Linked DNA regions of Homo sapiens. The protein of the gene in region 2 interacts with the protein of the main gene of each other region in a pairwise test. Each region holds a gene or a part of one and is shown on either strand. Other genes may lie near its edges.

Region 1 (3,831 bases), on a different chromosome or scaffold from region 2:
TTCTACAGAAACAGAAGCAAGATGAGAAGGGGGAGATGTTTCAGATAAAATGGAAAAGTTCTCTCTCTAACATATTTCAAAAGAATGTCTTAGGCGCTTTCATCCGTAAAACCAACGAGATGATTGAATAATTTTTCAACTACATAAAGGATGAATGCTTGATAAAAATAACGGAAAACTAACCTCAATTTTCGAACTATTATCTCTTTTCACAGGAAGAAGTGTGTTATATACGACTGACTTCAGTTTTGTCCGTTTCAGGGATCTAAATTCCAACCCTCAGAGACTCCATTTTTGCATTTCATATTAAGAAACTGTCAGTGAGGTGAGAGTGTGTTCAGAAATCCCAAAGATGAATATAAATAATACCAGTTGCAGGAGCTTAATTTAGAGTAGGCAATATATTTATTAGATTATTTGTTTCCCCAGCTGGTATGTAGAAAGACATGATTGGTGTCAATTTGTCTTTACTCTTAATTTCTTAGTGTGTTAAAAGACCAAGTATATATATTCATAAATACTAAAAACACACATTCATAAATACATAAAATACTTTAACCTAGGAAGAATTCTAGTAACAGCGGTAATACAGAAGAGTTGTCAAGGGTAATAGCAGCAGTCTTTGGTAACAGCAGCAGTCTTTGGTGGAAACCTATACTATAGTGACACAGCTAGAACACTCCATATAGGCAGCCTTACGTATTTCCCTTCTTCAAAAATACCACCATCAGTATTATCCCTTTATTCTGGTAGAAAACTCTTAAGTTTCTGGGTTGGAAAACTTGGCATTTTTTGTTGTTGTTGTTCAGTTTTCGTTATGTTTTAGTATCTCTCTTGGTCACATAACCTAACAATTGATCATAATAATTGAGAAAAATGTCATCTTTGGAGGATAGAATCAAAAGTTTCTTAGAGTAGTTAATATTACCTTTATGTTGGAACCATGTACTTCTGCTAGAAGGATTTGTTCTGAATTAAGTCCACAGAGATCACTCAGCTGTTTTTTTAAACCTGTGTACTTTTCATCCATATTCAGTCTTAGTCCATACCGTACAGGGGTAGTACCATCTAACTTAATCACTAGTAAAGAGAAAAGATCTTTTATTGGTAAAATGCAGGTTTCATTGAAAGTCTTAAATGCTGTGTACAGATATATCTGACCTGTAAATATAATAGCAAATATTTCAGCCTAGAATTTTTATTTTATGTGTAAACACTAAAACAGATGGTACTTAGGGATAATATTAAGTGAAATCAGTATTTTTTTGGTGTTCATCTGACATAAAAGTATCAGTGGCTTTGCAGGGTTTTAAAGAGAGTTGCTGGCATATTTGAAACCAAAAAAACATGCCCCAGTCTACATCTTTCAAACCTCAAGTCATGCCTAAAATTAGGTTGCTCAATTATAATATGCTGACTACCGGTCTTTATTTGTAAACAAATAACTATGCTTACAAATTCAGGCTATTTAAATAAAGTAAATTTAATGGAGTCAAGTAATTTTTCAGAACTTTCTGACCTACCTGTTATTTCTAAGTGCATATAACTGTCCATTGGTAGTGGCAAAGACAAAAAATTGAAAGGGTCAAATCGGACACTTATATGCCCACATGTCTTGCATTTTACTTGAGATCTTAGCTGCCCATGGAACAAATCCACAACAATTGATCTATTTCTTCTTAGATGGTTGTCCCAGGCCTAGCAATAAAAAAGATGAGAATTTTCTCTCAAAATCCAAAAGAGAAGCATTTCTATATAAATTCAAAGAAGCTAGTTAAATATATTGGATTTAAATGTAAAGAATATAATCCTTACTCTTCATTTAACATAAAATATTAAATTGAGATGGAAAATCCTATTTTTCATTTGTTCTTATCAAGGTAACAATGGTAAATATTAAAGTTATTTGTCCATTAACAAGTATAAAGCATGCCTATAGGTCACTGTATCCATTACTTTAGCAATTACGGGGACTCTTTAAATTCCACTGGATAATTATTCCTACATCCAGTCCCATAAAGTTTACAATATGAAATGGCAACAGTTTTCTATTTTCATTAAACGTATTTTTGTTTTGGCATTATTGCATAAGAATTAAGCACAGAAATAGAAATTCATTCATTTTTGCAGTAAAGTTCTGATCTCAGAATAGTTGAGTTTGCATTTAAGTTGTGCTACATGTATTTGTGGCCAGAACATTTTGTCTATTGCTTACATTAGAAACTCAAAACTGACAAACCTCTGCAGCTACTTCCCAGTCTGGTCGCCCATCACTGTCCTTCAGTTCCACATATGGCTTTTCATGGACTCGATTAAGATCTTCATGAAGACCATCCAAGAGAAAAGCCAGAAGTTCTTGGGAGTCCTGTTGCTGAAACCCATTAAACCTGGGAGCATATTTTGCTATGGTCCACTATAAATATAAGAGAAGTCACAGTCATTATTTCCTACCCATAAAATTTGGAATGAACATGTCCTATAATCCAATCAGAGCCATTGTAAGAAAATAAATAGTATAGTACTTAGTCTGCCTCTATTTCAACAAATATATTTTGGATAATCATGAAATCTTTTGAATCTTAATGTCAAATGACCCCCCCCAAAAAAAGAGAAGTATTTTGGCCAATACTGTGCAATACTGTGTCCTCAGTTCAGTATTATGTAAGCAAACTGTTCTTCAGGCACACAGATGTTATTTAAGACAGAAACATTAAAACAGCGTTTGCTCACATTGAAAGACATCCTGTTCTATAACGTTTTACATTTTTATATGCATATAAAATATGTATATTTTATAGGTACATAGTATATACATAACATATGCATAAAATAATGTGTATATAATAATACATAACATGTATAAAATAATATGTGTATACATTATTTTATATAATATAATGTTGTCTTCAACAATTACATTTTCTGGTCTTGTTGCATCCTAAATTTTATTAACTGCATTATATTATAGAATTATTTTGAGGATATAAATTAATTAGAATAGTGCCTGGCAAGAGGTAAGTAGTCAAATGTGTAGCTGTTATAGTTAATAATTTGTAATATAAAAAGCTTTTGCTTTGTATTTAAATAAAAATAATGAATAATCCTAACTTCACTAAAATCTACTACATCTGATATTAATATAAAACTTATATTCATTAGTTTCATTCATTCATCCTTCTACTTTTTTTTTTTCTTTTTGGAGACAGAGTCTTACTCTGTTGCCCAGGCTGGAGTACAGTGGTGCGATCTTGGCTCATTGCAAACACCACCTCCCAGGTTCAAGCGTTTCTCGTGCCTCAGCCTCCCAAGTAGCTGGGATTACAAGCATGCACCACTATGCCCGGCTAATTTTTTTTAGTAGAGACAGGGTTTCGCCATCTTGTCCAGGCTGGTCTTGAACTCCTGGCCTCAAGTGATCCACCCACCTCGGCCTCCCAAAGTGCTGAGATTACAGGCGTGAGCCCCTGCGCCCAGCCTACTTCTTTGTATTCTACAGATAGAACTATCTTAGTTACGTTGAAAATGGATTGGATTGGATGTAATTAATAAGACTCTGAGGTCCACCTTGCAGTTAGAATACTGCTAATAGTGAAGTATTACCAAAAAAGGTTTACTCTTCATATAAGATGTTTGACAAATTAGTAAAATGAATGACATCCCGAATTTAGAGTGTACCTTTGGTCTTTATCCTACCCACTACATATACAGTAGTAATTTTGCATATATTTAAACAAGCAAAAGAATTTGACCTTTTGTTTATACCAAGTGAAGGATCCAAAAACATTTATTAAGTTAAAAGGCTAAACACAAAAAACAAGCAGAGAAAAATGA
Region 2 (3,831 bases):
ATTTTGAAAGTGTTCTTTTAAAAACAATAAATTTTATTGTATATATTTGAGGTTTATAACATAGTATTATGGGATACATATAGATAATAAAATGGTCATATAGTGAAGCAGCTCAGCGTATTCATCATCTCACATAGTTGCTTTTTACGGTGATGGGCACCTAAAGTCTACTCACTTACTAACAATCCCTGATATGATACAATTGTATTAAAGTTAGTCCTCATGTTGTATGTTATATCTCTAAACTGGCTCATGTAAAAGTTTTCAATTGAGGAGTAAGTATACAAAAAATGTACAACAGACAAACATAAAACCTCACCAGCCTTGGAATCAGCCACATGTGGGTTTGAGCCCTAGTGCTTCTATTGAGCTGTTGTTGATGTCTCTGAGCCTTGGTTTTCTCATCTGTCATGTGAGCATGGTAACACGCCATATGACTTTTGTGCATGTTTACTGAGCTAACATAGGTAATGCAATTCACGTAGAATCTAGGACTTAGAAAGCATTTGTCTACTGCTATCTATAATGAGTGCAGTAGTAGGAAAATGTGTCAGTATCTGCTTTTAGGCTGTGTATTTTACAGAAGTTTCTCTGTTTACCTATTTTTGTGCTCATTTCAAGACATCTTTTTGCAATTAGAATGAAAACCATAGCTTGTGAGTCATGACCCACTTTATATCTGGAAGAAAGCTGGGCTTGTTTTTGATGGATGCAAGGTCAGGCGCTTGGAACGTCATCTCTCTTTATGTAGTGAACAAATTGATATTCCCAGAACATAATCCTTTTGCAGATTGTACAGATAGCTGCATCCTGATGACACATGATGTTCACTCTTGGGTAGCTTTGAAACCCAGACATGACTCACTACTTGTTGCATATGGGTGTACGCTTCATGCCACTTTTAATTGTTGTATTTTGCTTCTTAGGATGCGTCATGTTTTATCATTATATACTGATCCGCACAATATCCTGAGAGTCTTCAGCATCGTATATTGGTTTAACGCACTCCAGTATCCTCCAGAGACCCCATTTAGACAAACTTCATAATAGAAAGTAAAATAATGATCTTGTTGCTAAGGTTTTGGGATTTTTAAATACCTATAACTGTAAGAGACAAATCACGTAAGTAGACAAAAAAGAGACAACAGCCACTATTTACTTAGCTGGTGCTGTCTACCAGGAATTATGCCAGGTGCTTTCATAGATTACTGTCACAACAGCGCAGGAAGATGGGCCTTCTGGTTTTATTGTCAAGTGCAGGGAGATGGGCCTTCTGGTTTTATTGTCAAGTGCAGGGAGATGGGCATTCTGGTTTTATTGTCAAGGGAGCTGTTGCTCAAACTCTGACTTGAGGGACAAGGATTGGTTGAGCCTGTCTGGCTCTGAAGCCTACAATCTTTCTCCCTTGTCATGTGGCACCCAATCATAAACAGAAAGTTCCACTGATCTGCCAACTGTTCTGCTCATTGTTACAATGGTTCACCACTCTAGTAGTCCGCAGCGCCACTGCCACTTAACACGTCTGCGGATGGTTCCCAGAACCAGGCTGCAGCCCTGCTGGAGGCTGGGTGTGACTCCTCTCTTGCTCATCATCTGCCTCTCCCTTGTTCTGAAAGAAGTCTTTGCATTGGTTTTAATGAATTTATCTCTGAAAATTCTGCCATCTGGAGTCTCACGTAGAACTCCAAGCCTGGGGTCGTCCATACTCACTACTCTGGGAAATGTCTTCATAAACCATAGGTTGGTAAAATGTAGATGATCTGTGAAAACCTAAGTTTAGGGCCACTGCAATCATCAGAGCCCAGGCAGATCAAAAGAACACAGGCTGGAACACAGGGTTCAGTGTGGAGCCACCAACATTGTAATTTGTACTTGAAGTTACAGCTCTTGAGAAAAGCTTTGGGAAGTGGCTCTTTCTGAGGATTGCCTTGATTTTTGTTTTTTAAAGAAATTGCAATCTGGAGTCTTCAATGAATGAAATATTCTATTTTGCTAGGATGGGGAGAATTACCAGTTTAGATCAAATTATTCTTTATATATCAAGCATATACTCTTCTCTGTGTATTCTTCTATACTTTTTCACTTGCCTAATATTCTTACAACTCCACTGTGAGGTAGGTTAAACCACCCTAAATTGCAGATCAGGAAAATAAGGATGGTAGAGAGAGATTAATAGGCTTGTTCTAAACATGGAGGTAGAAGGAATTGCAGTTGAATTTCCATTTAGACCCATTCATTAGTAATAATCATGCATTCTTGTAATAAAATGGATTATACGTTTTTGCGGGGAGATGTCAGCTCAGCAAACATAGCTTATTAATTTTTCTTGATTAATTGCTATTATATTTTAATAATGGTATTGTAATATTATATATTGTTGCTAATATGAACTTTAAATATACTGGGACTGTGATTAAAGTTGATTTGGGGATGCCGTTGTAGGATTTTACATCATTTTCTATGCTCTTTGAGTTCTTATATAAGCTCTACATCTAGTTTCTCTTGGTAGTGAGCCTAGCTGGCAAAGGCCGTATTGTTTCTTCTCATTGCTGTTTATAATATGCTTTTCAGGGAAACACTAGATTTCTAAGACTAGTAGACTTTGTAAAGCAGGAGTGAAGACCACAGAATCTTTTATATTAACTCTACTTCATGTCCTTCACTTCTTCTTGTTTTGCTTACTTCAGGCTTTAAGCAGTGCCCCCAAGTAGGTAAGGTAGGTAGTGAGTAATTGCCTGGTAAGTGAGGCACCCTGAGTGAGGAATGCCAAATACAGTTGGGTTCTCAGCAGGGAGATCATGGGCATTTTGTCTGAGCAAGCTTGGGTTCACATCGAGGCTCTGGGTACTATTTGTGTAAGTTGGCAACTTCCTCCTTTGCTGACTCAGTTTTCACATATGAAAAATGGAACAGTCATACCTTTCTTGTAAAAATGCTCTAAGGCTTCAGTGAAAGACTGAGAGATAAAATATTTAATGCAGTGCCTGCATCTTATAGGCATTTGAGAAATATTACCTCCCAGCCTCCCTTGCTGCCTTTCATCTTGCTTTTAGAATTCTTGGCTCTTGTGTTTGCTGAGGTTTTGTGCCGGGATCTAACCCATAGCCTTAGCTTTGTGATTGAGCATACAGTCCCTGGCACAGAATGGGTACCCCATAAATAGTTGTTGAATGAATAAAACCTCAAAACCTCAAATGTGTTGGTTGCTGTGGACTACACAGTGAAAATATTAAACTGTAATGGAATGATGTGCCTGGTCCTTTTTTTAATGCATCATGGTTTCTTCAGCATTAAGGAGGTAAAGATGTTTATAGACACTTCTCTGTTTTTCTTTCAGTGCCTGAAACAGTATGTTGAGCTCTTGATCAAAGAAGGATTAGAAACCGCAATTAGCTGCCCAGATGCTGCCTGCCCTAAACAGGGCCACCTACAGGAGAACGAGGCATGTGCAATTGAACAGACTGGGCTGTTTGATGTGCACAGGCGTGCACTGCTGAACTTGTCAGAATAACGTGGGTTTTGTTTGGGTGTGCGTTGCATTATATTCTAGCCCTCAGCTTGTTATCATTCCTGTTTGCATTTTTTTTTCCCTTAGATTGAGTGCATGGTTGCAGCTGAAATTATGCAAAGATATAAAAAGCTACAATTTGAAAGAGGTAGGTGCCTGGTATATCTGCCGGTTATGATTCCTGTAATGTGTGAATGTGGATAATTTTGTGGGGAGTTCTTTTGGTAGATATGGTTATACAGCATTTGATAGGAGTTAAAAAGTTGATGTAAAATAAACTTCTGAAATTAAACTGACATTCTGGATTCTCTGAACAGCTCACA

What was found.
Region 1: the proteins of RNF144A (region 2) and USP32 interact in a two-hybrid assay, tested with the Homo sapiens proteins (one large-scale study listed by BioGRID).

What each region holds. Positions count from the first base shown.
Region 1 is NC_000017.11:60,207,131-60,210,961, forward strand, and holds part of USP32 (ubiquitin carboxyl-terminal hydrolase 32), read right to left. Parts: intron 2,414-3,831; coding exon 2,240-2,413; intron 1,699-2,239; coding exon 1,524-1,698; intron 1,081-1,523; coding exon 929-1,080; intron 3-928; coding exon 1-2. UniProt on the Homo sapiens protein: Deubiquitinase that can remove conjugated ubiquitin from target proteins, such as RAB7A and LAMTOR1.
Region 2 is NC_000002.12:7,011,117-7,014,947, forward strand, and holds part of RNF144A (E3 ubiquitin-protein ligase RNF144A), read left to right. Parts: intron 1-3,337; coding exon 3,338-3,442; intron 3,443-3,595; coding exon 3,596-3,656; intron 3,657-3,831. UniProt on the Homo sapiens protein: E3 ubiquitin-protein ligase which accepts ubiquitin from E2 ubiquitin-conjugating enzymes UBE2L3 and UBE2L6 in the form of a thioester and then directly transfers the ubiquitin to targeted substrates.